Linked DNA regions of Homo sapiens: region 2 is linked to region 1. A link means that fine-mapping ties the variant in region 1 to the expression of a gene that starts in the linked region. Tissue or cell type: whole blood. Region 1 holds a variant in brackets; the other region holds the start of a gene. All regions are shown on one strand. Distances are from middle to middle.

Region 1 (15,308 bases):
AAAAAAGAGCATCAAGTAGTTATTTGAAAAGAGAATCTGTTTCCACAGTTTTTCTCTTTTAGAATATGCGATATAAATGTCTTTTCATTTTGGTGAGCAAGGGTGGGTTCTCACATCAAACCTTAGCTGCAGGAGGATTTTAGCTGTGGTTTGGTGGTAGGAGGCATGGAACTTGTGAGTCAGGCAGACCCGGGTTTAAAGTTCCCTCAGCTGTGTGATTTTAGGCAAGTCACTTAAATTCTCTGGATCTGTTTTCTCAACTGTCAAGTGGAAATGAGAAAGGAATCTCACAGGGTGCCTGTGAGGATTGAATGAGATAATATTTATAAAGCGTTTAACCCAGTGCTCAACCTAGAATGAAAGCTCAGCAGCTGGTGGTTGGTATTATTACACCTAATTGTACCAACGGCAGTCGAGGCCATGATCACAGCAGCAGTGGTGGGCGCAGTCGTAAGCCACCGCAGCAGCGGTGATAATGTTATCTCTTTCTGTATGGACTTTGTCTTAGTCTGTTTAAGGCTGCTATAACAAAATATCATAAACTGAGCAGCGTATAAACAACAAGTATTTATTCTCACAGGTCTGGAGGCTGGGAAGTCAGAGATCAAGACGGGGCAGATTCATCTGGTGAGGGCCCACTTCCAGGTTCATGGATGCCTTCTTCTTGCGGTGTCCTTGCCTGGTGGAAGGGGCAAGGCAGCTCTCTGGGGCCTCTTTTATGGCACTAATCCCATGTATGAGGGCTTGACTCTCCCAGAGGTCTCGGCTCCTAACATTATCGCCTCCATTTGGTATTTGGTGATTTGGTTTCAATGTGTGGATTTTGAAGGACACCCACACTCAGACCGTAGCAGATTTTTTTTTTCCTCCCAAATTGAAACCATGAAACCAAATTGTGCTAGCTTTAAAAAGAGTTAGGAAGACACTGAGGGAGGTGGAACCAAGAGCAAGCAGTGTGGTGGGGCTATGGAAGGAGAACGATGACAGGCACCACACCAGCCACAGGAGTGAACGTTTCCTGAGCCTGTGCTTGGCCAGACGTGAGGCTGAGCATTTCACAGGGACTGTTTCATTAATTCCTCCCAGCAGTCTGACGAGATTGGGGCTCATATTATTAGTGAATGGAAGCTCAGAGAGTTAGCAGCTGTCACCAGGATGACACCTAGACCCTAGAGAGCCCCCAGGCCAGCCTCCACCCCTGCACACTGGCCGCCGCCTTCCTTCAGTGCAGACACAACTTCTTGGCTGCCCGCACCTGAAGGGCGCCAAGGTGGAGGGGAAGGGGGATAGAGGAAACCAGATGGGCTTGAGTTGGTCAGTGCTGAAGCTGGTGATGGGTACATGGGAGTTCAGCATGCTAGCTTGTTTACCTTTGTCTGCATTAAAGACTTCACAGTAGAAACTTTAAAAACATCTTCTTTAGATCTCCTTGCTTCCAAAGACTGCTGTGTTCTAACTAGCTCTATTTTGGCTACATGGATGGGCTTATCCTTCACCTAAATACTTTTTTATACATTGTCTGTCTTTTTTTTTTTTTTTTTTTTAAATCTTAGAAGGTTAGCATTTGTGGTTAGAACTGGAACAAGTCTCCTTAAAAAAATTTTAAAGAACCATGGTGATTCTCAGCCATGGGAGGAGCTGGGGTGTGGGGACCTGTGGCTGGGGGTGGTTTGCAAATGACACCTGACCTAGAGATTTCCCTGCCTGTCTCTGCCAGCGTTCCTCACCTCAAGCAGTCACTGTCACTCTGGGTAGGTGTTATATCCCTCAAGTTGGGGGCTGGACAAAAGCTTGGAAACCAAACCTGTCATCAGGGAAAATGTGAACAAACACCTGTTCATAATGAAATTACTGCTTTGGGTAGGCCCTGTCTGATAGAATTTTCTATGATGGCAGAAATGTTTATAGTACAGTAGCCACCAGCCACATGAGTCTAATGAATACCTGAAATGTGGCTAGTGGGACTGAAGAACTGAATTTTATTTAATTTTATCGAACTTAAATGTAAATAGCCAAATAATGGTCACATTGGACAGCACGGGTTTGTGTGGTTGGCAGAATGCTGGGGAAAACCTTGTTTGGGCCTCTGAGTCATAGGGAGCCATGTTCCTCAGTGGAGCGGAGGGCAGAGTCTGAGTCTCCTGTGGTTCCTTGGTGCCTTTCCCCCTTCTCTGTAAGGTTCGGGAGCAGTGTGGGCAATTGGGCAATGGAAGATGAAATCACCTTCAACCTGGGGAGTTGTGCACCCCCCTGAAAGTAAGTCTCTGCAGCTTGCTGGTGTTCTGATGCAGAATGATCTGTTCAGCTTATCAAATCAGCTTTTGTTTACACCCCAGCTTGGGGTTTTGATCTTATTTGTTATGGAAGTTGTTTCAGAGCAATCCGTCCTCACCTGGCTGCTCGTGATAACCACCTGCGAGCTTATGAACAAAATACAGATTAAAAATATACACTAGATCAGACTCTCTGGATGTTTGGGCTCAGAATATAGAATTTTTAAAAATATCTCACATATATATAAACATACACATATTCATACATGTACTTTTTTTTTTTTCTAAACTTCCAGACCACTGTGATGCAGCTAGCTGATCTAGAAACCGGTGATTGAGATCAAGTGTTTTGCAGAATTACACTTTTAAAAATAAAAATGCATTGTCAAGGTTATCTTTTTTTCAGTTTCCTTTTTACCCTTCTTCAGTGAAGTGATTTAAAAATTAAAGGGCATTGTAATTAAGATGTATGCAGTCATGCGCCACATGTGATGTTTTGGTCAATTATGGACCCATCAAATTCTAATCTTTTCTATGTTCAGATACACAAATACTTACTACTTTTACTGTATCTTTTCTGTGTTTAGATACACAAATACTTACCACTGTGTTACAAGGCCTGCAGTATTCAGTACAGTCCCATGCTGTACAGGTTTGTAGCCTGGGAGCATTAGGCTGTAGCATACAGCCTAGGTGTACAGTAGGCTATAATATCCAGGTTTGTATAAGTGCATTCTATGATGGTTACACAAAGACAAAATCTCATAATGATGCATTTCTCAGAGCCTATCCCCATCATTAAGCAATGCATGACTGTAATTCATCTAAATGTAATTTGATAGAGCTGTTACAAAGTAATTGAGTTAATGCTTGTTTTTCTGAGGGATTTCTTTCATCTTTACCCACATTTACTGGAATCCTTGAACATTTTTCAAAGCTGTGCCAGATTGGAAACTTACTCATCACTGCTTTTTTCCCAGAATAGCCATCTCACCCAGGATTTGTGTATACGTGGATCTCGAGGTCCTCAGCACTGAGACAGGCTTGCTCAGACACCCCTTAGAATGTCACCCAGGGTGGGTGGGCAAGTGTAAGACATTGCATGAGCTTCTCAACAGCTGTGTGATGGTGACATAATGAGACATAGAATGGTTTTCTTATGAAATAGCTGGACATGCAGAGAGGTCAGATGAATAATAAGCTCACACCTGCGTGCCCCTCACCCAGATATTATTTAAAGCAAAAAACATCATAAATACAGTCAAGGTTCTCTATGTTCCCCTTCTCCGTCTCTTCTCTCCTTTCCCTCCTGCCTGTACAACCACTGTTGTGAATGTTAATGATTGTCTTTGTAGCTTATATTTCTGAACTATTACTATACACGTTCAAAAACAACATGTATATTTTTTCTCTGGTTTTAATGTATATGTTTGGTCACTATCATTTTATAACTTGCTTTTTGTAGTCACCATTGTTTTTGAGGTCTTTATTGATTTGATAGATTTAGTTCATTCTTTCTCACTGCTGTACCCTCTTTCTTTGTATAAATATACCCCAGTTTATTTACCCACTCCTTATTGTAAGCCTTTGTTTCTAGTTTTTTACTCCTTGAGAGAAGGTACAGTGAGTATACTCATACAGTGCTGCTCAGGCACCTGGGGGTTTTCCAAGCTTGCAGTGTTTGCCAACTACAGTTTGGGACCTTTTAGTGAGCTATGCTTAATAATTTAGTGGATAATGACCCACGTCTTAAAAAACTAAAAATATTAGAGTGTTATTGTATATGTTAACTGTTGCGTTATGAAACTATTATTGCTTTTTTTTTTTTCTTTTTGAGACAGAGTCTCACTCTGTTGCCCAGGCTGGAGTGCAGTGGCACGATCTCGGCTCACTGCAACCTCCACCTCCACCTCACAGCGTTTCTCACAGCCTCCCGAGTAGCTGGGATTACAGACCTGCACCACCACACCCGGCTAATTTTTGTATTTTTAGTAGAGACGGGGTTTCTCCGTGTTGGCCAGGCTGGTCTCGAACTCCTGACTTCAAGTGATCCACCTGCCTTGACCTCCCAAAGTGCTGGGATTACAGGCATGAGCTACCATGCCTGACCACCATTGTTGCATTTTATATTAAAAAAAATAGGTGCTTTGGGAGGCTAAGGCGGGAGGATTGCTTGAGGCCAGGAGTTCAAGACCAGCCTGGGCAACATACTGAGACCCTGTCTCTACAGAAAATTAAAAAGTAACTGGGAATGGTTGTTGCATGCCTGTAGTCCTAGCTACTCAGGAAGCTGAGGTGGGTGGATCACCTTGAGCCCAGGAGTTTGAGGTTCAATGAACTATAATTGCACCACTGTGCTCCAGCCTAGGTGACAGAGCGAGACCCTGTTTCTAAATATACGTGTGTGTGTGTGTGTGTGTGTGTGTGTACATGTATATATGTGTGTAAATGTTTGTACTGAATCACAAGATAAAATTTATCATTGTGGGTCATGGTCAAAAGAGTCTGGAAAGATATAGAGATACACCTGGACGTTAAGTAGCTGGATGGTTGTACATCCTCTCATTTTTATTAGCTGTTGCCACAGAACGTTCCTGCTGTTATATTTCACTTTGTACAACTTCCTGGCCTGCAGATCAGATCCTTTGGCCCTACATTTCTGTGTGTAATATTTCACTCTTTTCTTATTTCTTGCAATCTAAGTTTTGCGCCTGATCAATTAGCTTATCTCATGGGTTTGAGACTGTTACTTAGTAAAAGTTCGAGTTCGTGGTAAATGAATGAATGGGAATCTCAGTCCATGTACCAGTACTTACTGGATGTCTAGGATGTGCCTGGGGCCCTGTGTCCTTAGCAGCTTGAATGCTGTTTTGGAGGAAGATGAGATTCCCTCACATATCTAGAGAATAATCAGGTTTTTTTTGTTTTTTTTTTTTGAGGTGGAGTCTCGCTCTGTCGCCCAGGCTGGAGTGCAGTGGCATGATCTCAGCTCACTGCAACCTCCGCCTCCTGGGTTCAAGCAGTTATTTGCCTCAGCCTCCCAAGTAGCTAGGATTACAGTCACGTGCCACCACACCCGGCTAATTTTTGTGTTTCTAGTAGAGACAGGGTTTCACCATCCTGGCCAGGCTGGTCTTGAACTCCTGAGCTCGTGATCCGCCCACCTTGGCCTCCCAAAGTACTGGGATTAGAGGCATGACCCACTGTGCTGGGTGAAAATAATCAATGTTTAACAGCAGGTGGAGTTACATGAAAGGAGAGATGGGTATTGGCTAAAGCAGTTGCAGTTTTGTTTTGTTTTTTTCTCTAAAAAGATTGGCTTTAGGTCGGACACGGTGGCTCACGCCTGTAATCCCAGCACTTTGGGAGGCTGAGGCAGGCAGATCATGAGGTCAGGAGATCCAGACCAGCCTCGCCAACATGGTGAAACCCTGTCTCTACCAAAAATACAAAAAATTATCCGGGTGTGGTGGCAGGCACCTGAAATCCCAGCTACTCTGCAGGCTGAGGCAGGAGAATCGCTTGAACCCGGGAGGCGGAGGTTGCAGTGAGCCAGGACTGCACTACTGCACTCCAGCCTGGGTGACAAAGTGAGACTTCATCTCAAAAAAAGAAAAAAAGATTGGCTTTGAGCCTTGGAGACTAAAATGGGATTTAGAGAAGGGTAGAAGGACAGCATTTCAGTGCAGTCAGAGGATTAGAAAAGGAATGTGGAGGTGTGACAGGTCCCACCTAAGTTGGGAAGAGTGTTGCGAGATAAAGATGTAAAATGGCAGGTGTCATTGCTGGCCTCAGCTAACCCTCTGCCCATGTGGAAGGCTAGGTGGCCATGTGTGTTCCATTTTAACGACCCCACACCCATAGCCCACTGGATGAGAGGAGGAACCTCACACAGGAGGAATCCGTCCACTGGCTAGAGTATTAATGGGTTAATTAGATTATGTCTCGTTAATCTGAACCAAATCCTGCAGACTGTGCTCATTCGAGAGTAAATACTTCAGATGAGTGAGACTCAGTTCTTGGGGATTGAGCTGCCATTTCCGTTTCCTTTCTTTTTTGCCTCCCTGTCTGTTGCAGTAGTAGGTGTGGTGAAGATGGTTTGACTGCATCAGTGCAGTTGTGCAAGTTCATGAGAATTTATGT[A/T]ACTTAGTAGAAGCACCACACTTCCTTTTCTGTGTATAAGAAAGGATATTAAGCCGCCTTTTGCAATGATTGTGTATGTTAAGTAACTTTCCAAAAAAGTTGGCTTTTCCTTAATTAAAATAATGTTATAAGCAAATTTGAAAACAAAAAAGAAAAATTCACCTGTAGTTCTCACTCAGAAATTAGCTATTGAGAACTCTCCACTCCCTTTCTTTAAAAAAAAAAATAGAGATTACATGTAAGCTTTTATTAGTTACTACTTAATAATATACTTATAATACTTTATAAATGTAGGTATGCCATGAAAATTGTAGAATATAAGTGGGGTTCTTTAAATGATAAAACGTTTAGCCATTTCTGGCTTTTGCATATTGTTAAAAAAAAAAACCCAGACATTGTTGGCTTATTGTACCTTACTATCTTAGTTGAGGCAACCACTTTGTAAGTAGACACTGAGAGGTATAATTGCAGACAAGAGGACTCTGCATACCTGTTTGCAGAAGGGAGCTTCTGTAGACTTCCCTGATACCCAGTTGGGACTGGTAACTATGTTTTGAACACAAAGCATACGTTTGGTTCTGGTGAATTTAGACACACGTGTTGTTTTTGTTATCTGTTACTGCATATCAGGTTATCCCCAAACATAGTTAAACCCATAACAAACATGTATTTTGCTCCTGCATCTGCAGTTTGGGAAAGCTCAGTGGGAACGGGTTGTCTCTACTCTGCACTGCATGTCTGGGGTGCCTTGAAGGCTGAGGTTAGAATGATCAGAGAGTCCCTTACTCAGGGGCCTGGCAGTAAGTGCAGCTGTCACCTGAGACCTGGGCAGGGGCAGGGGCCAGGACCAAGACACCTACACTCCCTTTTCCACGTGGCAGTGTGGCTTCTTTTCAGCAAGGGCTGGGTTTTGAGAGTTAGCATCCTCGCTCACAGCAGACCTGACCAGCGGGAGGAAGCTGTGTCATCTTTTGTATTTGGGTCCTAGGGCTGCGTACAAATTAATACAGACTAGATAGCTTAAAACAACAAAAATGTATACTTTTACAGTTTTGAGGGCTAGAAGCCTGAAATTCAGGTGCCAGCAGGGCTGTGGGAGGACACTACCTCGCCTCTCTGGCTTCTAGTGTTTGCTGACACCTTTGACGTTCCTCAGCTTGTAAGTGCAGTTTTGTGCAATTTCCACCTCACATGGCCTGCTTGCCTCTCAGTCTTTCTTTTCGCCTCTTCTCCTCCTCTTATAAGAACACCAGTCATATTGGATAGGGCCCACCTAGCGACCTCATTTTAATTTAAGTACATCTGCGTAGACCTTGTTTCTTTTTTTTTAAATTTATTTATTTATTTATTTATTTTTGAGACGGAGTCTCACTCTGTCGCCCCAGGCTGGAGTCCAGTGATGTGATCTTGGTTCGCTGCAACCTCCACCTTCCAGGTTCAAGTCATTCTCCTGCCTCAGCCTCCTAAGTAGTTGGGACTACAGGCACCCACCACCATGCCCAGCTAATGTTTTTTGTATTTTTAGTAGAGATGGGGTTTCACCACATTGGCTAGGCTGGTCTTGAACTCCTGACCTCAGGTGATCCGCCCGCCTCGGCCTCCCAAAGTGCTGGGATTACAGGCATGAGCCACTGCGCCCGGCCAACCCTGTTTCTAAATGAGGTCATTCATGGGCTCCTTCACAGGTTCAACATGGACATGAATTTTAGGTGTACACTGTTCAACCGACGGCCCCTTTTGTTGACCTTGCCTTGGAAATGAGTGTGGTCACTTCTACATTCATTAGAAGCAAGTCACTAAGGCTGCCCCGAATTTCAGGGGAATTGGACTCCCCCTTTGGGAGTTAGTGTCAATTAATTTGTGGTAATGTTTTTAAACTACCACATTCGTGTGCATAGAAATAATCTTCACGCAACCACCAGTGAAATACTGTTTTCTTTTTTACAGATTCATATATGTGTACATATAAAACAGGTTTTTAAGGGGCCTAACTAGAAACAGATACTTGGGTTTTAGTTTTTGGTAGAAGCCAATGGAGATTCACTTGTAAAGGTGTGCATTCTCTCCTAAGGAGGGCACAGAGTGGTTTAATTCATTCTTTTATGTTGTTAACACAGGCTGATTAATAATTTGGGTCTGGGCCAGGCATGGTGGCTGATACCTGTAATCCCAGCACTTTGGGAGGCCAAGGCCGGTGGATCACTTGAGGTCAGGAGTTCAGTCAGCATGGCGAAATGCCGTCTCTACTAAAAATACAAAAATTAGCTGGGTGTGGTGGTGCATGCCTGTAATCCCAGCTACTTGGGAGGCTAAGGCAGGAGAATGACTTGAACCTGGGAGGCAGAGGTTGCAGTGAGCTGAGACCATGCCAAGCACTCTAGCCTGGGTGACAGCGAGACTCCATCTAAATAATAATAATAATAGTAATAATAATAATTTGGGTCTGAAGACTTCCAAAGATCCTGGGTCCCCTCTTGGCTAACTGCTGTTCAGTGGCCAGTAGTGGCCACAAAGGCTTGGGGGTGGCATCACCTGCCCTCTGAAATGCTTGGGGAAGAGTCTGGGAGACCCTGAATTACTTACTAGCACTTCGTGAAGGGAAAGGCACATCTTCCTGCTATTGTGTTCATTTTTGCTTGCCAAAAGTTCAGTCACAAATAGCTTCATTTTCAGCATTTGCACTTGTAACATTCTCGCTCGGCTGGTTTCTCGCAGCTGCACATCCACTTTGACATTTATACTTTTTACTTATTTGTTAAAATATGTGCATTAATATTGCAGAGGTGCAAAGGTAATGTTTTAGCAACAGTTCCTTTGTCATGAAAATAGAGTTCTTGTATCTTTCCTGAAGGGGAGCAACTGAGTTAAAACAAAAAGATTGCTGAGTGGAAGAACAGAGGTGTTGGTGACTTGCTTATCGTTTTGTGTCCAGAAGAAGAAAAGCTTAAAGAGGCAGTGGGAAAGTGCAGGGGGCGCTCAGCCTCACTGTTGTCATGCTTGCCTGTGTGACCTGTACCCATGTCCAGGTGGTTTCAGGGAGCTGCCCGGTTTCTCCTCTTGCACAGTAACTTGGGGTACGAGGAGGCTCTGAGGTGTTTACAGTGCTTTTCTCTTGTAAAGAGCTGGTTCATGGAGTGCGTTCTTGAGTGTCTTCTGAGCCTGGGATGGGGTCACTTCCCTCAAATACAACAGCATTTGTTTATGAGTGACTTTTGCTGAAAGATTTTGCCTCTTCAAAATAAAATAATTAACAAGTCTGGTCATTGGTCCTACTTGAGAGTTTCAGAGTGCTTTTGTAACATGAACATATTTATTTATTTTCTGGAGACAGAGTCTCACTGTGTCACCCAGGCTGGAGTACAGTGGCGTAATCTTGGCTCACTGCAACCTCCGCCTCCCGGGTTCATATGATTCTCCTGCCTCAGCCTCCCGAGTAGCTGGGATTACAGGCAGGTGCCACCACGCCTGGCTTATTTTTGTATTTTTAGTAGAGATGGGGTTTCACCATGTTGGCCAGGCTGGTCTTGAACTTCTGACCTCGTGATCTACCCTCCTCAGCCTCCCAAAGTGCTGGGGTTACAGGTGTGTGCCACCGCACCCAGCCCGACATGAACATATTTAATTTCTAACTTCATTTCTTTAGGAGACAGTCATTCTTGTCGCTTGAGACAGAGGGGAAGAGAGTGAGAGCCAGAGAGGTCATGGAAGGCTCCCGGCACCTGAGAGTGGCCGGCGTGGGGCTGCCGGGGGCTGCCAGGTCTGCTCGTCACACTGGCCCCACCAGACTGCATTCTCCTGTGGCCAGATGCAATTCTCAGAGGGTTCTGGTGTCTTCTCTCTGGGCCAGCTTTGCTTGTGCACCTGCGAATGTAATGATTGTCTTCTGGGGGAACCAAAGCGATCTTGTGCAGATAAAAGTGGTGTCTTTGATTTTTATCACCTTTAATCGCTGTGATTGATGAATCCAGAGTTCTAGAGCAGCTTTTCTGTTTTTATTCTCACCGATTTTCCGGGTCCAGTTCTGTCAGTCCGTTCAGTATTTGTTCTGTTCTGCCCTGGCCTGTGCCCAGTGGTGGGGAGGCTGTGTTCATTGCACATTTACCATTGAGTGCTGGACAAAGATGAGGAAGTGAGTGTAGTGGGGTCAGTGTAGACAGAGAAACCACCCAGATATTTTAAGCAGGAAGGATTTGATACAGGGAAATAGATACTGTAAGCTGTGGGAAGGGCCTGCATTGAGGTGGGGTGGCTCTCAGGCACTATCTCAGGACCTGCCCCTGTGCCCAGCGTAGAGCGTGAGACCAGCGGGGTTCTGCTGCAGTGCAGGCCCAGAGTCAGGGGCACCCCACTTTCTCTGTTCTGCACCTCCCACACCCTCACTCTGTTCCACATTCTAGCCTCCAGTAAGTGCATCTGATTGGAGGCAGAATCCCACTGGAAATGATTCTGGAAGGTGCATTTTAGCTTCCGAGCCTTTGTGGTTCAGGAAAGCACAGCAAAAGGCGTGTGGAACCGACGTGGAGGAGCCGATCTGCTGCATCCCCCACCAGGCAGGCGGCTCAAGGGCCATGGGAGTCAGCAGCGCTGTCCCCCACAGTGTCTAACCTGGAAGGGTGCCTAGGGAACTGCGAGTGGCTGGGCCCGAGCAGAGTGTGATGTTGGGGTGCAGGAGTTTGGACTTGAGTTTGAAGGAGTTTGGACTTGAGTTCAAGACCGGGGAAGCCGTCATAGGGTTTAAGCTGTGATGGAGCAGTGTGGTCAGATGTGGGATTTAAAAGGCAGGCCCTGGCCATGTGGGGAGAGGGCTGGGTGGGGAGCAGGGCAGAGAGGAGGCAGCACAGTGAGGCAGCTCTTGAAATACTTGGAGTAAAAAGTGATGTTGCACTGAATTTGGGCAGGAGTAGGATGAGCTCTGCAAAGTGAGCAGATTTGGGAGGCAGCCAAGAGGAGGGATCAACAGGCCCCGTGACAGATGGGATAGGTGCGGGAAAGTGTGAATTGAGCAGAATGGAAGCAGGTCAGTAAAATCCATTGAAAATTTGCTGCCCTGAAAATAAAAGTGTTTGTCTCAGAAGACTTCTAGTCTTTTTAGATTGGAAATTCTCCAGTTTGTCAATTGGATTCAACCTTCAAATACAGGTTTATAATTAAACTCAAGTAATTTGCTTCCCACACTTAAAAATACATTTGTAGGAGAAGCAGCAAACATGCCATTCAGGTAGATGTCCTTCACTGCAGACTGTGCCTCAGTGGGTGTCCTAGTGCTGGGTCCTCACCTCCCACCTCCAGGGAGGGGCCTGAGCCTGTCATGGGATGTCCTGGACCTCAGGAGAAGACTCAGATGCCTATTTGATTCAGGACGTGGTTTGATTTTTAAACATGCCATGGACAAGTTCCACATGGAAAGCATTGTCGTGCAATGTGAGGTTGCCCACGATGGTTAGCGGCTGACCAGACGAGGCATGGATTTCATGTGCATTGATCTCTGTTCCTAATGGGACAGAACCAAATCCTGCAGGTGTCCTCGCTCTTGGCCTTGGCTTCATACGCACTAGAAAGAGCGTTGGCGTGTTTGATTGCCATAGAAGGCGTAACGGAGGCTTTGGGTTTTGCTGTTGTGGTTGGCTTTTGTCTTGTTCTCTCTTCACACAGAAAATTGCTTGAGTGACTTGGAATTGACTCCGTTTACCTTCTGTAATTCTTAACCCAACCCAAGACAGGCGTTTGATGGGAAATACGTAAAGAAAATAGGAGGTAGCTGTTTTTTCACTTACCGTCTCTGGCAGGGATCTGCAGTCATTCATGTTTAAGAACAAACAGTAAGTAGGGTCTGTTAGGTGCCTTGACTGTGACGCTGTAACCTGTACACTTGGTTCAGTTTTAGTTTCTCTTTCATCCCCAAAGGTCTGTGTACGCCTTTTTACCTGTCTGCAGAAAGTCAGAATGTACAAAAGTGTCTCCTCTTCCGCAGGTGGGAGCAGGGAAGCTGCTAGGATTCCCGTTTGAAAATGGAAACCCCCAGTGCCCTCAGGTGGCTCAGCCCTGGGGTGCCCATTGAGATTGGGAGTCTGCAGCCCCAGGCCTCCAGCCCTTGCACAGGGCATTTCCTGGCTGGTTAAAGAACAGCCAGGGAACGAATATCCAGATTGCTGGTGCTGTGTTGTAATCCGGCATTCTTCTTCCTCTAAAAACGGAGCTGGAGCTTTTCAAGCCCCCGCTCCTGGGTCAAGCCCTGTTGGCAGTGTGTGGGGTGCTCCTCTGGTTCGGCAGCTCCTCCCCTGCCATCTCCTTAAGTGTTCAGGAGTGAGAGCAGCGGGAAGAGCTGAGGGGCAGCTTGGGTGGTGCTGCAGAGGGGACAGACCAGTGTGAGCTGCTTCAGGGGCAGCCAGGTTCCCTGGCAGCTGGGTGATGAGGAGACCTTCAGAAAGATCCAGGGTCAGGGACTAAGAAGACAGGCGCTCGTCCACTGCTAGAGAAGCCTCAAAGTGCATTCTGGGGTTCCCACTGTCCTTCAGGTTTGGATCCTCCTGGAAGTTTTATTTGACCCAAGTCACGTGTAGGTTAGAGGCACAGGGGCAGGCTGCTACCAAAGGAGACAGTGTAGCAGGTTCTCAGAGGCAAGGGCAGCCCCCCCCGTTTGCTTCTCCTCCTTTTTCCTTCCTCCTGCCTCCCCTCCCTCCATCCTTCCTCTTCCTTTCTGTCCCTCCACCCCTCTCCCTTCCTTTGTCCTTTTCCTCCCTCCATCCTCCTCTTGCCCTCCTCCCCTCCAGACCCTGTCTCTCTCCTCTTCCTTCCATCCCTTTCCTCCATCCTACTCTGTCCTCTTTTCTTCCCTCCTCCTCTCCCTCCATTCTCCCTCCTCCTCTTCCTCCCTCCTCCCCCGTCCTCCCTTCCCTCTGTCCTCCTTTCTCTCCCTCTCCTCACCATCCTTTGCTCTCTCCTTCCTCCCCTTCCCCTCCTCCCCATCCTCTCTCCTCCCTCCCCAAAGCACCTGCAGTGTGCCCTGTGCAGGAGATGCTGGGGGAGGGTGTGAGCCAGTCTTGGGTTCAGGCCCCCTCGCCATCAACCCTGTGCTTATGTCTGTGATGGCCACCACACCTCATGGACCTTGTTCTGCCAAGCTGGGCACCCGGGTGACCCCAGGGCGGGTCCTGGGAGCATCCTGCACTCTCCCAGCGAGGTGCTTTCCCACACCCGCCAAGCTGCAAGGTGGATGGGGTGGGAGGATGTTACCTTCCCTGTGACAACACAGGGATGTGTTGGCAGGAGCTATTCTGGGCGTGTAGCAACTGTGTCTGTGTGTCCTACGTGTTTTCCTGGATAGATGGTGTTTTCTGAAGCTTTGTAGAAAGTTACACTTAATCTCCCGACGCCCTTCCATTTAAACTTGGTGACTTGTGCACACTGTCCCATAGCTGCAGGTCCAGACCCGCCTTTCTGCCCATCTGGGTCCCCTGCCCTGAAGCCTCCTCAGCTGCTCTCTGACCAGGATCCTACCATTTACGCTGACATTTGACTCTATCCCCTAAACCTTTAGCCACTCCTCTCCTCCTGTTGGTATTCTCACACTCAGTTCAACTCACACTCACAGACACTCATTCACACTCTGACCCATGCCCCCATATTTGGGTTCCCACTTGAGGTGTCTGTAAGGTGCCCCTTTAAATAAAACTCAGCAGGCCACCCTGCTTAGGTTCCACTTTGGGGAAACAGAGGCACAGAGAAGTTAAACGAAGCGTCCAAAGTCAAGGAGCAAATTAGCAGCAGATCCCAAACCGGATGCCACAGTCTCAGGTCTTCAAGAAAATCTCTCCCATCCCGGTCTTCCCTCTGCTGCCCTCTTTCTCTGTTACTCGTTTTTCTTTTCTTTTTCCTCCCTTTATCCTCATTAGTGAGCTTCGAAGGCCATTTGTCATAGTTGATAATTGTTGATGGAGCTATACTATGAAAAGAAAATTGCTTAATTTTAGGAGTGAAATTACAAATGAGAAATACTGCAGCAAAGACCTGCCCTTCTAAAAGTTCTTGAATCTACCTCAAATTTCTCCAGACAACAGGTTTATCTCAGCATCTTCTAATTCACCTTTCTTTTCCTCTAAAACCAGCCTTGAAGTTAAGATTTTTAAAAAATTGTACTTGGCAGATTTAATTATCAATGTGGCAAGCTTATGTGTGCCTGTGTGTGTTGGCTGATTGTAGAAAACCGTAAACATGAAAAGGTAGACAGAGTGACCCAGTGAGCCCCCACACATCCAGTGCCAAGCTTCAGCGATTACAACTCGTGCCGTTTTAACCATGACTATTTCAGCACACGTCCTGAAAAGGTGGGATTGTCTGTCTCTCATAGCCACAATACCATGATCATACCAAAACATCCAGGAATTCCTCATGTCAAGTATTCAGTGTCAGTCACAACATTTCTGTGTTGTGTAACTTCTTCTTCTTCTTCTTTTTTTTTTTTTTTTTTTTTTTTTTTTTTTTTTTTTTGAGAGAGTTTCGCTCTTGTTGCCCAGGCTGGAGTGCAATGGCACAATCTCGGCTCACCGCAACCTCTGCCTCCCAGGTTCAAGCAATTCTCCTGCCTCAGCCTCCCAAGTAGCTGGGATTACAGGCATGCACCACCACACCCAGTTAATTTTGTATTTTTAGTAGAGACGGGGCTTCTCCATGTTGAGGCTGGTCTGGAACTCCTGACCTCAGGTGATCCACCCGCCTCGGCCTCCCAAAGTGCTGGGATTACAGGCGTGAGCTGCTGCGCCCGGCCTGTGTGTTATGTAACTTCTTAACCCACAAAACATAATCATGTCATCTTTAGGGGCTTGTGGACTGGACTAGTTTCCTCATCACTTTGTGCCCTTGTCCCTATGGGAACATGCATCCAGCGACCCACCA
Region 2 (17,135 bases), 31 kb before region 1:
GAACATTCATATATTTCTAAAGATTAAATCAGTGTGATTAGAATATCTATCACATTAAATATTTGTCTTCTCTTTGTGCTAGGAACACATTCAAATTATTGTCTTCTAGCTATTTGAAATATACAATAAACTACTGTAAACTGTAGTCACCCTACTGGTCTATCAATTACTAGTTCTTAGTTCTTCTGTCAAACCGTGTAGTTGAACATTCATATATTTCTAAAGATTAAATCAGTGTGATTAGAATATCTATCACATTAAATATTTGTCTTCTCTTTGTGCTAGGAACACATTCAAATTATTGTCTTCTAGCTATTTGAAATATACAATAAACTACTGTAAACTGTAGTCACCCTACTGGTCTATCAATTACTAGTTCTTAGTTCTTCTGTCAAACCGTGTAGTTGAACATTCATATATTTCTAAAGATTAAATCAGTGTGATTAGAATATCTATCACATTAAATATTTGTCTTCTCTTTGTGCTAGGAACACATTCAAATTATTGTCTTCTAGCTATTTGAAATATACAATAAACTACTGTAAACTGTAGTCACCCTACTGGTCTATCAATTACTAGTTCTTAGTTCTTCTGTCAAACCGTGTAGTTGAACATTCATATATTTCTAAAGATTAAATCAGTGTGATTAGAATATCTATCACATTAAATATTTGTCTTCTCTTTGTGCTAGGAACACATTCAAATTATTGTCTTCTAGCTATTTGAAACATACAATAAACTACTGTAAACTGTAGTCACCCTACTGGTCTATCAATTACTAGTTCTTAGTTCTTCTGTCAAACCGTGTAGTTGAACTGTATTAGTCAACCTCTCTTCATCCTCCCCTCCACCCTTCCCAGCCTCGGGTGATCACCAATCTACTCTCTACCTTCATAAGATCCACTTTTTTTTAGCCCCCACATTTAAGTGAGAACATGTGATTTTTGTTTTTCTGTGTTTGTCTTTTAACACCTAACATAGTGACACAACCACTGCTGTAGACCAAGAAAGCAGGACTGGCCCTCTCTCCCACCTACCTTAGATGTTCTATGTTCTTTCTTTCTGATGACTAATACTGGGCATGACTCATTTCAAAACCCACATAGATGTGACCTCACCATGTCACCCTTGGTGGATGCCTTGGTTCACTTTTTTTTTTTTTTTTTTTGAGATGAATTCTCACTCTGTCGCCCAGGCTGGAGTGCAGTGGTGCGATCTCGGCTCACTGCAAGCTCCGCCCTCCTGGGTTCACACCATTCTCCTGCCTCAGCCTCCCAAATAGCTGGGACTACAGGCACCCACCACCACACCAGCTAATTTTTTGTATGTTTCATAGAGACGGGGTTTTACCACGTTAGCCAGGATGGTCTCGATCTCCTGACCTCATGATCCACTTGCCTCGGCTTCCCAAAGTGCTGGATTACAGGCGTGAGCCACTGTGCCCTGCCTTCTTTTTTTTTGAGACGGAGTCTCACTCTGTGCCCCAGACTGGAGTGGAGTGGCGTGATCTCAACTCACGTAACCTCCGCTTCCTGGGTTCAAGTGATTCTCTTGCCTCAGCCTCCCAAGTAGCTGGGATTACAGGCGTGCACCATAATGCCCAGCTAATTTTTTTTTTATTTTTAGTAGAGACAGGATTTCACCATGTTGGCCAGGCCGGTCTCGAACTTCTGACCTCAAGTGATCCACCTGCCTTGGCCTCCCAAAGTGTTGGGATTACAGGCGTGAGCCATAAAGCCTGGCCGGTGCCTTGATTCTTAACTCAGGTTATGAGAAAATTTTTCTAGGTGCAGAGAACTCGTCAAGTTTCATAACATGAGAGGTCTATGGGCACACAAATCAAGGTAGGATGAGAAGAATTGGGTGCAAGTGCTCTATTCCACAGCCCATAAGCACATGCTTGTGTGAAAAACAAATACACATCAAAACAAAGGACTAAAACCACTGAAATACAATTGATGTTGATATTTCAAACTTTTTTTTTTTAATTTTTTGAGACAGGGTCTCACTTTGTCACCCTGGCTGGAGTGTAGTGATGCAATCTTGGTTCACTGACGTCTTGACCTCCTCCTGGGCTGAAGCGATCCTCCCACCTCAGCCTCCCAAGTAGCTGGGAGTACAGGCGTGTGCCACCACACCTGGCGACTTTTTTGTTTTTTTTTTTTTTTGTAGAGACGGGTTTTCCCCATGTTGCCCAGGCTGGTCTCGAACTCCTGAGCTCAAGCAATCCACCCACCTTGTCCTCCCAAAGTGTTAGGATTACAGGCGTGAGCTACCACACCACGCCAGCCCCAAACTATTTTAAATAAGTATCCTCCTTTCTCAAAAGTCATTTAAAAATAAGCTATAGTAGAAGAATCATTGAGCCAGGCAACTTCTTAAGTTTGTAAGTTTACAAGTATTCTTAATATTGCTGCACAGTTAAAATAAACCATGGAATCTCTCATTCCACCGTTATAAGCCTCAAGGTCAAAAAGCTAACCTACTTCAGAAGCCTTTTGAAGGAGCTGAGGGAGTATTCTGAGAACAAAAGGCATGCAAGCATTAGTAAAGTAGAAGAACATTTTTTGTACAACTTCATCTTGATGCACAAACACACACCTTTCCCATATACACTGGACCAGGGTGTTACCTTATATTAGCTTGGTGCAAAAGTAATGGCAAGAGCCCCAATTATTTTTGCATCAACCTAAAAAAAGTAATTGTGGCTTTTGCCATTACTTTTGCACCAACCTAATATATACCAGACCTCACATCTTCAAACTGGTCCCCATGTAACAGGATACCCTCCAGCATGGTCCTTTTCCTTCCTACTTGCTCAAGGAAACTGACAGGCATTGCACACAGCTCTGCCCTGCCCCTCTGGCTGGTTCCTCTGCAGTCCTTGGCATTTGGACCTGTCTCTAACGTGTACCCCACACCAAGAAGAGCAAATGGTGAAGGCAGCTCTGTAAGAGCATCAGTCAAAAGATGTTACAGGTCTCACAATACACTACGGCACCTCTTTACTAAGCGATGGGAAGCTTTTACAAACTAATATGTCCTTCTCAATTCCAAATCACATCCAGGTTCATGACACCATGGAGGTACAATCACACTGTTTTACAACCCCAATCAATACAGAAGACTGAAGGCAGTTACTTGAATGCTTAAAATTACAAGAGCCATCTACTCTAGAATGAGGATGGATCAACGTCCAGGAATTTCTACTTTCCTTTGTACTACAACAACCTGACCTTTCAAAGGTTTGGAATAATCAGTAAAAAACCTTCTTCCAACACAGGATTTCCAGAGAGCAAAAACAAAACAATGGCAAAAACCAAACAGGATACCCGGTTAAATCTGAATTTCAGAAAAACAACACATAATTTTTTTAGTATCTGTCCCATGGTACATTTGGGAAATACTTGTACTAAAACAATTATTTGTTGTTAATCTGAAGTTCATATTTAACTGGCAAACCTACCAGGTAACAAAAGGATTCTAAGACTCTATTAGTCAGGATTATTTTGCCTGCTTGTGACAGAAACCCATTTCATTACTGGCTTAAGTAAAATGAGAAGTTAATTGGCTGATAAAACTGCTAAGTCCAGGGATAGACCTAGCTTCAGATATGGCTTGATCCAGAAGTTCAAATGACATAATCAACACTAGGTATTTGTCTCTATCTTTCTCCACATATAAGGCCCAGGTCTCTCCGTGATGGCCATAAACAGCTTGAGGCCTATATTCTCCCAATATGGGCTGCCTTCATAGGAAAAGATAACTTTTCTGTCTCAGTAGTTCCAGGGATTGTCCTATAATGGAGTCTTACTGGACTAATTGGGTCATGTGCCTCTCCCTGAACCAATTACTATAGCCTATAGAATTGGACATTGTAACAATTTCTTATGGCTGTTATAACGAATTACCCAACCTGGATGGCGTAAAACAATTGAAATTTTATTCCCTCATAGTTCTGGAGGTGTTCTTCCAAAGGCTATAGCAGGGAAACCGTTCCAGCTTCCCGTGGCCGAAGACATCCTTGGCTTGTGGCCCCATACTCCAGTCTCTGCCCTCCGTAGTCACATTTGCCTTCTATTTTCTGTCTCAAAACTCCCATTTCCTTTCCATTATAAGGACACTTACGGTTTATTCATAGCCTACCCAGATAATCCAGGATAAGAGCCCCCTCTCATGATCCTTACCCTAATTACATACTTTGCCATATAAGATAATATTTAAAGGTTCTGGGGATTAGAGCATGGATATATCTTTGGCAGGGGGCAACTGTTCAGCTTATGACAGATATTTAGGATTGAAAAGTCAGGGAGAAATAGTTCTCCAAAAAATGATGATGTTGGTACCTGAGAAAGGAAATAATGGATACTGAAAGCAAACACAGCAAGATATTTACAGCAAATACTTTTTAGTCTGTTCAATTCAATTTATTTCATGCAGTTTACCCTTGAACAATCTACGGGTTAGGGACACCCCCATCTCTGCACAGTTGGAAATCTGCATTTAACTTTGATTCCCCCAAAACTTAACTACTGATAGCCTACTGTTGACTGGTAGCCTTACTGATAACATAAACAGTTAACACATATTTTGCATGTTATATGTATTATAAACTGTATTCTTACAATAAGGTAAGCTAGAGAAAAGAAGGCAGCATTTAAGAGCAATGAACTAGGATATCTAGCAGAAGAAATGTCTAAGCAGTAAAGCATTCAAGGTGTTGCATGGATTGTTTTGGCTGCTTACAGTAAAATTAGAGAAGAAATAAATGATTAAAAGATGAAATTTATAACTAAAAAGGAAGCAGAAAAAAATTTTGAAAATTTTCAGCCTGGCCAAGAGTGCAAAGGCATGTTTGGGAGAGCCTCATAAAGATGTAAGTCCTTGTAGGGATATAGTCCAGTGGACCCCTTGCTAAAGAGATTACCATGGCTAGAAAGGAGTCAGGTGCTATTCATCAAGACAAGAAAGACCCCAATGGCATTTCAGAGATTTTTTAGGTTGCCCCTTCCATCACAGGCCCAGAGCAGGACCTTGAAGGCAAGGTTTCCAGAGACGTGGCCACAGGACCTCAGCATTTGCTACCAGGCACTGCCTCAAGTATCTGCTCCCCGCTTTCCAGCACAGCACTCCACAGCTGTTGCAGCTGTGTGGCTCAAGTGGGCCCAGCTGTGGCTTAGGCTACTGTTCTAGAGGGTGTAAGTGGTGGGCCTTGGCGGCATCCATGTGGTGCTAATTCTGAAGGTACACAGAGTTCATGAGCTATGGGGCTATGGCAGCCTCCACCTAGATTCCAAAGAATGTACTGGACAGCCTGGGGATACAGGCAGAAACTTGCCGTAGGGGCAGAACTGCCACAGAGATTCCCTACCAGGGAAATGCCTAGTGGAGCCATGGAAGCAAAGCCATAGCAGGGAACCACCACTAGGACAATGACCAATGGAACTGTGGGGTTGGGGCTGTCCCAGAGCCCCCAGAACTGTAGAGCTACCAGTGTGCAACACAGCTTGGAAGAGCTTTAGACATGAGACTACAAACCATGAGGTTCTGTGACATGACTACACCCAGCCAAGTTATACAGATGGGGCAGCCCAAGACCTTGGGGGTCCAACTCCCACCCTAGTATGCTTAGAAGGTGAGATATAGTCAAGAAAGGCTATTCTGAGGCTTTGGGATTTAATGTTATTTTTTCCCTGTTGGGTTTTGGACTTACTTGGGACCAGTTACCCCTTTATCTTACATATTTCTCCCTTTGGGAATGTGAATACCTATACTGTGCCTGTGCCACCATTGTATTTTGGAAGTAAATAATTTGTTTTAATTTCACAGGCTCATTGCTGGAGGAATTTGTCTTAGGATGAATTGTGCCTTGAATCTTGCTCATATCTGATTTAGATGAGACTCTGGACTTTCTAGTTGGTGCTAGAGTGAAGACCTTAGGGCTGCCAGGTGCAGTGGCTCATGACTGTAGTCCCACCACTCTCGAAGGCTGAGGCAGGTGGATTGCTTGAGCCCAGGAGTTTGAGACCAGCCTGGGCCACATGTCAAAACCTCATCTCTACAAAAAATACCAAAAAAATTAGCTGAGCATGATGGCATACACCTGTAGTCCCAGTTACTCAGGAGGCTGAGGTGGGAGAATCACCTGAGCCCAGGAGGTTGAGGCTGTAGTGAGCCATGATCACACCACTGCACTTCTGCCGGGGGGACAGAGTGAAACCCTGTCTCAAAATAAATAAATAAATAAATAAATATTAAAGCCTTTAGGGCTGTTGGGATGGAATAAATGTATTTTGTATGTGAGAAGGATATGAACTGGGGGTGGTGGGGGGCATAGAAGCAGAATGCTATGGTTTGAATGTGTGCTCCATAAAGCACGTGTTGAAAACTGAATCTCCAGTGCAACAGTGTTGGGAGGTGGGGCCCAAAGGGAGGTGTTTAGGTCATAAAGGCTCCACTCTTATAAATAAATTAATGCCAATTATAGAGGGTTTGAGGCTGCAAGTTCAATTTCACATACACCCTCTTGCCCTTCTGCCTTCCACCACAGGCTGATGCAGCAAGAAGGCCCTTGCAAGATGCCAGCACCTTGATATTAGACTTCCTAGCCTTCAGAACTATGAGAAATACATTTCTTTTCTTTATAAATTACTGAGTCTGTGGAATTGTGTTATAGCAACACAAAATGGACTAAGACATTAAGGAAAGGATGCTTAACAGGCAAAACATGGATGCTTCCTTCAACCAACCACTGTAGCCCCTTGCACATTGTTTAATCAAAACCCATCCAATTGAATTTTCAGGGCCAGCAACTGATTAGCTTTTTTATAAGGAATGTAAATTATGTATATAGATATATATAAAACTGCATCTTAAAATTTTCAACTTTTGTCATAAAGAATCTAACGAAAAGGACTAATTCATCTTCAATTAAAATATAGCTCATTCAGCCAGCTGCCTTAGCACCTAGACATATGGACCTGTTCCATAAAGTGTTTAAGAATCACTGAGTGAGTCGCTAATTAGTTGCTGATAAATGAGAGACTAATGGAGACCCTCCTTAGAGCCAAATGATATAGAAGTTACAGTCCACCAGTCTAAGAATGTAAACTATACTAAGAGAGCTAAAATGGGCAAGAAAGGGAATTTCCTGTACCTGTCCCCGATTATGGTTATTTAAGCTCACTAGAAGATCAAAGTGACACAACTTAAGTCTGCAAAACCAGGGCTGACATCTGATACAGCCTCAGCTTCTGAATGCTTTGGTCTGACCCTACAACAGTTTAACAGTTGCAGATAACAAAAATATCATTTTGGAATATAGTAGAACATTCCTCTAAAGGGGTCATGTATGGTCAGCTTCTAATTCAGCTAAGAGGTTTTAGCTGGTAAAGATACGTTTCCTGCAGTTAAGAAGCTCCATGCTCAGGTAGCAATAGGGTATCTTGATCACCTTTTTTAAGGTGACTCTTTGTTCTGGTTAAAATCAATTTCAGCTGTGAGCATTCCTTTAGGTGTTCATGTATTTACTTGTTTTTTTATTGTGATTTGAGAGAGGCGCAGAGGAAGGAGTTTCCTTTCCCAGACACCAGAGCTAGGAAGACATGAAGACATGATTCTAGGAAAACTGTTCTCAATCTTGGCCGTATACTGTATTAGGATTATCTGGGAAGCTCAAAACAAACAAAAAATATCAAGTTCACTTTGAACTCTGGAAGTGGGACCCTGGTTCCTAAATGCTCTAAAAGCTCCCCAAATAATTCTAATGGATGGCAGGTGCTGCCAGAGTTAAGAACCATTGCTTTAGAATTTTCTAGCATGGTTTCCCTGTAGGTCACTAGTTTTGTGGCATTCTCTCCGGGAGGTACGGCCTCATAGGGCTTCTCAAACATCAGTGCGCCTGAGCGTCATCTGAGGCGCTGTTTCAAATGCAGCTGCCCGGGCTATAAGATCACACCCGAAGGCGTCCGGGAATCTTCACTTTTTCCGTTGCTAGCAGTGGAAGGGTCACAGACCAAACACTAAGGCCTGAGCGGTGACAACCGAGGCGAGATGATGGTCAACAGGGAATGCCTCGTGGGAGAAAAAAGACAATTTTGTGAGTATAAGCCCCCTAAAAACCTGTTTTTCGTTCGCTTCCTTCTCTGGGCAGTTTTGACCCGACGACTTTTATAAAGAAGGTAACGTGAGTGTGGCGCTGGGTGCGGTTGGCTGTTCGGGAACATTCCCTCGGGGCGGAACGTGGGATGGGGGCTCCCCCCAGGTACCCTTTCCCCACAGCCGCTTCCCCGCTCCGCGTCGCTGCTCAGGCGCCAGCTCCCGCGTCGGAAGGGGCGATGGGGTGGCCCGGGGGAAGGGGCAACGCCCAGCGGCGAGAACTGGGCGCACGCTGGCGTTCCTGCTCCCGCCGAGGGGCGGCCACCGGCCGGGGCGCGCGCACCGTGGGGCCGGGAGTCCGCGCGGCCCCGGCAGCCCCTGCCTCGCTTCTCCGCGCTCGCGGCGCCGCCTCCTCCCTTCGCGCCGCCGGCGCTGCTCGGGGGCGGGGCCTTGCCGCTGCGGAGGCCGGAGACGCGGCGGCGCTGGACGCGGAGGCGCTGGGCGCACGGCGCGGAGCCGGCCGGAGCTCGAGGCCGGCGGCGGCGGGAGAGCGACCCGGGCGGCCTCGTAGCGGGGCCCCGGATCCCCGAGTGGCGGCCGGAGCCTCGAAAAGAGGTGAGTGGGCGGCGCGCGGCCCCAGGCTGCCCGAACCGCGGTCCATCGCTTCCTCCCTCCTTTGCCCAGGGCCCGTACCCCGCGCGCCGAGACCTCGCGTCGGTCCCCGGAGCCTCCCCGCGGCTTGCGCCGGGGCTGCAACCTTCGCTGGCTGCGCTCGGGGCTGGCTCCGCACCTTCCTGCACCGAGTAGCCCGCGGCTGCCTGGGCCCCTCGGCTCGCTCCCCAAGACCGGGCGCGCGGCCCCCTTGCCCTGCGATGAGGGGCCTCGCGAGGATTCCCTGCCCTGCAGTCTCAGGCGATGCGGGGCCTGTCTTTTTGTTCTGAGCTTTGTCACGCGCGTCGGCATCCAAAGTCAAAAGCGTGCACCCCCTAAGTCGCACTAGTTCCAGTTCTGCAGCGTGATTTGCACCAGGCGCGGGAGGCTGGCCGAGCCGCGAGTCTCTCGGCTCCCGCCGCCTCTTCCTCCCCTCCAGCCCCAGGCGCGCTCCGGCCGCCCTGGGGTCCACGTTGCCGCTGGGCCTCGTGGCTGGTGACCCCGGAGCTTGGGCTCCGGGTCCTCCCGCCGCGCGTCCAGAGCGCGGCTGCATCCCGTTCTCGTGGATGCTCGGGGTTTTCTCGCATACCTGTGTTTCCACCTTTGCCAACGTGGAGGATCCACACAACTTTGCCCTGCTGTAAAAATCATATCCCATTTAATATTTTTAATGATTTGCTTTTAAGAAACAAAATGTGAAGAATAACAATTTTGATGAAATTTTTTAGCAAAATTTAAGAATTATTATATTTGAAATACCATGATGATGCTGGACAATTTCAGATGTCCCATAGCCAGATTTGCAAAACTAAACTTGTGTGACTTTCACGATTTTGAGGTTTTCTTTGTCTGATTTGGGGTCCCTAGGCCCTACATTATGCACATTATTGAGGAACATTTCTAGGGCTGGATTAGTGAGATACACAATAACCTGATGAAGTATTTAGCAGCGCTTGAGTGGCTTTGTTTAGCTCATGGCCATCAGGTTGGCTCAAATCTCAGTTTTAGTATTTCTGAATTTTGGAGGGCATGGGACAATCTCTTGTCAGTTTTTGTGGGTCTCCAAAGGCATCCTAGCTTCTTCCAGTTGTGTTATAAAAGATGAAGCTAAGCTCATTACTTTCTTTCTTAATAGAAACTAGTAACTTGCTAAGACTTACTGTTTTTAGGCCAGACACTCAATTCTTAAGGTGTCAGTGAACAAAAATTGAATTGTTAGGATGGTTAAAGAAAAGAGGTTAGCTTTTAAGATACATTTTGTTCTCCTATGGAGAGGTTATCCAATTTTCACATTTTTTTTTAAAGTTGGTTTTACAGGAAAACGAAAGAAATGAGAGGAAAGTAGTGCTGAGGGTGGGGCCAGGAAATTGTGGTGACTTGGATATTAAGGGCCAGGGATACCATCTGCTTTCTAATGGCTGGTTTAGGTCCAGTTATTGATGGGAAATGAAAAGATTTTGCATTTACATTCCACCCGCTGTTGTTGTTGTTGTTGAGGGCTGGGCAGAAACAACAGTTAGGACAGCTGACCATAGCAGGCCCAGGGCTACCCGGGTTTATATATATATGGCCACCTTCCCCAGGAAGGAGGGAACTGCTACCCTTATCCTGTGAAAGTGCGAGCTGGCTTTCTGCATTGGAAGTACAGAGGGCAGAACCTGGGGAAAATGCGTCTGCGTGGATCAGTAGGAAGGGTGGAGCATCACTTTAGGCAGGTGTGCTGAGAAGAAGACAGGTGTCAGTTGATGGGCACTATTGGTGGGAGGGAGCTTGAAGGCAGCGTGGTCCCTGAGGTCCAGCCGCCTTTCTCAAAGGACCTGGGGTGGCCATTGGGGGCGGGGGAGCGGTGTTCTGTGCCTTTGGCTTAAATTCTGCAGCATTATTGTTATTACTTGTTTTTTCTTGAAATAAAAAAAAAATAAGTTGCCCTATGAAAAAAGATACATTTCTTTTTCAGTGACGTAATGTGAGAAATAACATTTGTAATTGGGATTTTTTAAAAGCACTTCTGTTTTTGTAAAACAAAACAATTTTTTAAACATTTGTAAAAAAGTAGAAGGAACAGAAGGAATGGTGCTACTATGCTTTTGCTCTCACCTTAGAAAAGGGCGAATGATATTTCACTTGCTCCCCAAAAACTGTTCTTAAAGATCATGGTGGTTTTCTGGACTTCTCACGTTATTGATGAAGTTACATTAAAAGAGAGACTTGTCTCCAAATTTATGAAGTGTTTCTTAAATTTCCAGAGAGTCTTTCCTTTCTTTCACACAGATATTTCTCACACTTTCAGGAAAAAAAAAAAAAAAAGTCCATGCCTTCTCAGATTTTTACATTTTGGTCTTATTTTCCTTTAAAACCCTTAAGCACTTTATTAGTAGGACTTCCCTTGCTAAGATTTTGAAGATTAGTGCCTGACAGAAAAAAGTACATATATAAATACTATATAATATGATTATAGTTGTTTATATTGTAATTTGCTATCGTTTCCCAACTTTTTTGATGTTTCTTAGTAATAAAAAAACTTTTTTAACACTCTTCTGTATGTGCATTTGTTGCTTATTTATAAACTACATGTATTTGCTGTTATGGTTATATTGTGTCTCAAGGCCCAATATACACATAGGGCTGGATTTGTTAACAACATTAGAGGTAGAAACCCTGTTTTAAATACTCTTTCTCTTAATTTTAAGTATTTTGGGCCTGTGTCTTGTCAGATCTGATTACATCAGCATAGTTTCTACTTCATGAGGTATCTCATGCAAGGCTGACTCAGTATAGAGCTTTGCCAGCCACGGTATTTTGCTGTCCTGTGTTTGCATTTATTAGTGGAATAAACAGACCTCTGACTTGGTAGGTCTGGGGTCGGCCACAAAATTTGCATTTCTGACAAATTCCAAGGTAATGCTGATGCTGCTAATATGGGGACCACACTTTAAGGACCATTGAACTACAGCAGGAGTTGGCAACCTGTTTCTGAAAAGGACCAGATACTATTTTAGATGTTGCAGACCCTGTGGTCCCTGTCACAACTACTCAGCTCTGCTGTTATAGCCCAGTAGCCACAGATAATATGTAAATGAATGGGCATGGTTCTGTTCCAGTAAAACTTTATTTATGGATACAGAAGTTTTAGTTTCATGTAATTTTCATGTGTCATGAGATATCCTTTTATTTCCAAACCAAAAAAAAAAAAAAAACCTATCGAGCAGTTATCATGTGGTGTGTACTTTATTGCCGCTGTAATTTTTAATCCTCACAACAAAAGGTTTTACATATTTAAAGTCTCATATCACTGCATCCTAGAACATGGGGTCAGTAGTAAGCCTACTTCAATGGACTTTTACAAGGATTGAATAAGATACAGAGAGGGGGATTATACAACTCACCAAAATTCATGCAAATAGTAAGAAAGCTAGGATTAAAATTCCTTTTGGCCTGACCCACATCAGTACTCTTTTCCTAAGCCACACTGCCTCAACAGTACCGCTAAGGAAGCACTCAAAATAACAGGTAGCTAAACTGACATCTAATATCACTTCATGGCATCCAAATTCTCCAAGGAGCACTGAACCAGGAGTCACCTGCCAGGTCAGTCTCCATCCCTCTATCAGTAGGTCTGTGTGCGAGTTGGGGAACACTGCAAGTTTCAGCTGGTTCTCGGTTCTTCTTGGTTTTCAGCCCTGCTGGGCTCTTTTGGGTCTTTCCCACGCGCGCATAATCTTCCAGGCAGCCAGGAATATGTGGAGAATTTATCTCAGCCCTTTGAAGCACTCTGTCATGAAATATTATTCTTTTAACTTTCTTCAACCATTGAAAATGTAAAAACTGGCCAGGCACGTTGGCTCATGCCTGTAATCCCAGCACTTTGGGAGGCTGAGGTGGGCGGATCACTTCAAGTCAGGAGTTCGAGACCAACCTGGCCAACATGGTGAAACCCCATCTCTATTTTAAAAAAAAAAAAAAAGGGAAAATACAAAAATTAGCTGGGCGTGGTGGCATGTGCCTGTAATTCCAGCTACCTGGGAGGCTGAGACATTCGAATCACTTGAACCCAGGAGGCAGAGGTTACAGACAGCTGAGATTGCGCCACTGCACTCCAGCCTGGGTGACAAAGCAAGACTTCGTCTCAAAAAAAAAGAAAAAAAATGTAAAAACTATTCTTAATTTGTGGGCAGTGTACAAAAATAGATGGCTGGCAGGATTGGGCCCTTGGGCGGCAGTTTGTGACTCAAGGAAAAATTGAGCTCCTACTGAGATGTATTCTTTTTTCTTTTCTTTTCTTTTTCTTTTTTTTTTTTTTAGACGGGGTTTTTGCCCAGGCTGGAGAGCAATGGCACTATCTCGGCTCACCGAAAACTCCGCTTCCCAGGTTCTAGTGATTCTCCTGCGTCAGCCTCCCAACTATCTGGGATTACAGGCATGCACCACCACGCCCGGCTAATTTTGTATTTTTAGTAAAGACAGGGTTTCTCCATGTTGGTCAGGCTGGTCTTGAACTCCCGATCTCAGGTGATCCGCCTGCCTTGGCCTCCCAAAGTGCTGGGATTACAGGCATTAGCCACCGTGCCTGGCCCAAGATGTATTCTTTTTTAAATATTTTTTTGTAGAGACAGGGTCTCCCTGCATAACATTGCCCAATCTGGTCTCGAATTCCTGGGCTCAAGTGATCCTCCTGCCTCAGCCTACCAAAGTGCTGGGATTATAGACGTGAGCCATCGTGCTGGCCCCAGGATATATTCTTGACGGTGGTTCAACCTTTCTTCAGAAAATTTCAAAACAGGAAGAATTTGGTTCCCTAGTTCATTTTCACTCATCCACCTCGCTTTTTGGTGTTTCTACTACCTACCACTATACATTCATTTTAAAAGTTTTAATCTTTAGACACTGTCAGCTTCTAGCATTGGGGAAAAGATGGTGTTCATTTTGGGGAAGTGAGAGGAAGAGAGTCTGTGTATTTCCTAGTAAGTTTTTAAAGCAATTTAAGCAGAACACAGTGACCTTGGTCATTTAATCCCAATGGGTTAGAGGCAGAGTTGACAAACTGTCTAAATGGTCAGATGGTAAATGTTTAATCCTCACAATACCCTATGGGCAGAGTTGGTCTGTGAGTCTCTGTCTCTGTCTCAACTTTTCAGTTCTACTTTGTAGCCAGAAAGCAGCCATAGGCAGTATTTATGGCAGTGTATAGTAAAACTTTAAAAAAAAAAAAACCAGGCCCGGATATGGCCTGTGGGCCATAGTTTGCTCACCCCTGGCTTAGAGACATTCTTGGGACAGGGTGGAATATTTCCAGGCCATCAGAAAACTTGGTGACTGATTCTTTCCCGGACTCCAGGCTGCGCCGGGGTGTGCTCAGGTCTGTTTGCTCATTGCAGTGACTTCTGAACTTCCTGCTGAGCCGCTGGGGCCATTCCTCTGAGAAGGAGTTAGAGGTGTGGCTCCACCACTGTTTGGAGAAGCCCAGTTTCTGCACTGGTTGATGTTGGTCAAACATGCTAATCTGACGCGATTGCTCCTATATATTTGCTTTTCTGATTTAAAGCCCTATATGAAAATAAGGAAATGTTAAACATAATATTTGACTAGGAGGGTCAAGGGGCTCGTGTATTTGGCATGTTGTCCATTTTCATATGCCTTTTCTTTCTTTTAAAAAAAGTAATTAGAAGGCTTTGTTAAATTACAAACATTTTGTCTTAAAAGCAAATAATAATTTTAACCAATAGGTTGAATTTTTAAATTAAGCCAGTAGGTAAGAATATGCAGTTTTTTCCTTTTCTGATTTATCAAGTGATTTTTTTTTTTTTTTGACAGAAATCTTGCTCTGTCGCCCAGGCTGGCATGCAGTGACGCAATCTCAACTCACTGCAACCTCCATCTCCTGGGTTCAAGCAATTCTCATGCCTTAGCCTCCCAAGTAGCTGGAATTACAGGTGTGTGCCACCACACCCAGATAATTTTGGGGTTTTTTTGTTGTTGTTTCTTTTTTTTTTTTTTTTTTTGAGGCAGAATCTCGCTCTGTCACTCAGGCTAGAGTGAGTGGCGCAATCTTGGCTCACAGCAACCTCTGCCTCCCAAGTTCAAGCGATTCTCCTGCCTCAGCCTCCCAAGTAGCTGGGATTACAGGCACACACCACCATGCCCAGCTAATTGTATTTTTAGTAGAGACAGGGTTTTGATATGTTGGCCAGGCTGGCCTCAAATTCCTGACCTCAGGTGATCGTCTGCCTTGGCCTCCCAAAGTGCTGGGATTATACACATGAGCCACTGTGTACACCCAGCCTATCAAGTGATTTTTAATGTGAAAACACACCACTTGTTTTAATTTTGGGAAAGCCTGGAGCCTCACAGAGTTTAGCTGATTTAAGTTAATCATTTTCAGTATGTTGGAAGCTTATAACCAAGTATGAGACAAACATATTCTGAAGCTTAAATGAAAATGAATATTAAATTAATACCTCTGTTTGATGCAGTATATCACTCACCCACTTCCATCTCATCCGCAATCCAAATAAATTCTAAGGTGGGAGAAGGGAGAGTGTCTGATGTATTTGACCACCATAAACTCTGCCTGTGAGTTCCTGCCACCAGCCTTCATCAGTCTTGATCATTTCTCGCCAGTGTGTGTCCCTTATCCTTCAGCAGCAAGGGTTTCTACAGTCCTGGAAGCCTGTGAGGAGGCACCTTGCAGGCCTGAAGCCTCATTGTGTTACTTCCTTTCCTTGTGTCACTATTTACCTGGGCAGCCCTGCTCCCATTGGGAGCCCAGGGCTCTCCTAAGAGTGCTGTCTAGACAGCTGCTCACCTTCCTGGCCAGCCAAGCACTGGGTGACAGTGAGGGGCTTCCAGGATTGTATGACTTCCAGGACTGTTTGAGGCTTGGCTTCCTCAAACCTTTTTCATAATATGATCCTGGTCTGGGATGTCCACGGCCTCAGTGGCAACTGTAGGTCAGCCCCAGGTAATGGCAGGTACTGCTATTTTAGTTGGTGGCAGAGTCAGGAGAAGGAAAGAGGAGGACTGGTTGCTATAAAGTAGAATGGTTATGGAAGGAAAACATGCATCACTGTTTCCTCATAAAATGGAAAAAAGATTGAATCTAGAAATGATTTGTTGTTCATCTTTCCATCCCTAATAGTTGTCAACATTTGTTGAGCAATTACTATGTGCCAAATGTAGCTCTAAGCGCTTCTCACTCAACTCACTGAATCCTCTTAAAAACCTTGTGAGCAGGACAGTGATGCACAGACAGGTCCTGTGTCCCCTGAGTGGTAGAGCAAGGGTCAGACATGGTTGTGGGGTTCCAGTCTTGGAGTTCCTGAGTGGTGGAGCCAGTGTCAGACATGGCTGTGAGGCTCCAGTCTGTGGGGTTCCTGAGTGGTGGAGCCAGGATTCAGATATGGCAATGGGATTCCAGTCTGTGCTCTTAATACCACCCTGAGCTGCCTGATGTGAATACAGCACCTGACTCATGGTAGCTGCTCAATAAATTTTTTATTGGCTGTTTAAAGAAAAGAGAATATTAAATGGTTATCTGTACACTTCCCTTGAAGTGAGAATGGAGTTTATTTTCTGCTTTCAAATTTATAATATACCCCACCCACTGACTTACCTCTACTAGAATAACAAAAGGCCTTGCAAGGGTCACATCTAAAAGTATTTTGTCAAGCCATGTGCGGCAGCATGTGCCTACTCGGAGACTGAGGTGTGAGGATTGCTTAGGTCCAGGAGTTCAAGGCTGCAGTGAGCCATGATTGTACCACTGCACTCCAGCCTGGGCGACAAGATTCCATCTCTTTAAGAAAAAGTATATTGTTAGAAAATTTAGTATATAACAAAGATAGTTGTTCAAAGCAGTAGGTAAAAATAGATTATTCAGTAGAGGGCCCTGGCAGAACTGGCTTGTCACTACAGGAAAAAAAAAAGCTGCATTCTTTGTATTTCCTTACTTCTGCATTCTTTGTATTTCCTTACTCCTTACATCAAAAAGGAGTTTTAAATGGATGAACAATTTAAATGTAAATATGAAACTGTACATTGGAAAAAAATGTGGGTAAGTTGTTTATAAACTTAGAATAGGAAATGCCCTTCTAAATATAACAACAATCGAGAAGTAATAAAGGATTGACAAGATTAGGTTATTTAAAACAACAACAGAGTGGCTGGTAAGATGGCCAAATAGCAACAGCTCTGGTCCGCAGCTCCCAGCGAGATCAACACAGAAGACAGGTGATTTCTGCATTTCCAACTGAGGTACCTGGCTCATCTCACTGGGACTGGTTAGACGGTGGATGCAGCCCACAGAGGGTGAGCAGAAGCAGGGTGGGGCATCGCCTCATCTAGGAAGTGCAAGGGGTTGGGGAACTCCTCCCCTAGCCAAGGGAAACTAT

Evidence for each region. PIP is the estimated chance that this variant, and not a neighbour inherited with it, causes the effect.
Region 2: it holds the start of GOLM1, and the variant in region 1 is fine-mapped to the expression of GOLM1 in whole blood (TOPMed, PIP above 0.99).

The regions. Positions count from the first base shown.
Region 1 is chr9:86,060,472-86,075,779 of GRCh38, reverse strand. The region is part of intron 3 of GOLM1 (golgi membrane protein 1); the gene reads left to right. Among named protein-coding and RNA genes, the nearest start is that of GOLM1, 31 kb to the left of the region's middle. RefSeq lists enhancers at 9,446-10,446, 10,447-10,947, 12,180-13,096. The variant A/T (reference allele first, on the strand shown) is at 6,417.
Region 2 is chr9:86,090,988-86,108,122 of GRCh38, reverse strand. GOLM1 (golgi membrane protein 1) reads left to right here and starts at 8,565. Exons shown (of 10, transcript NM_016548.4): 1 at 8,565-8,712. RefSeq lists silencers at 8,354-8,673, 8,684-8,783, 8,944-8,993, 14,075-14,369 and an enhancer at 8,624-9,124.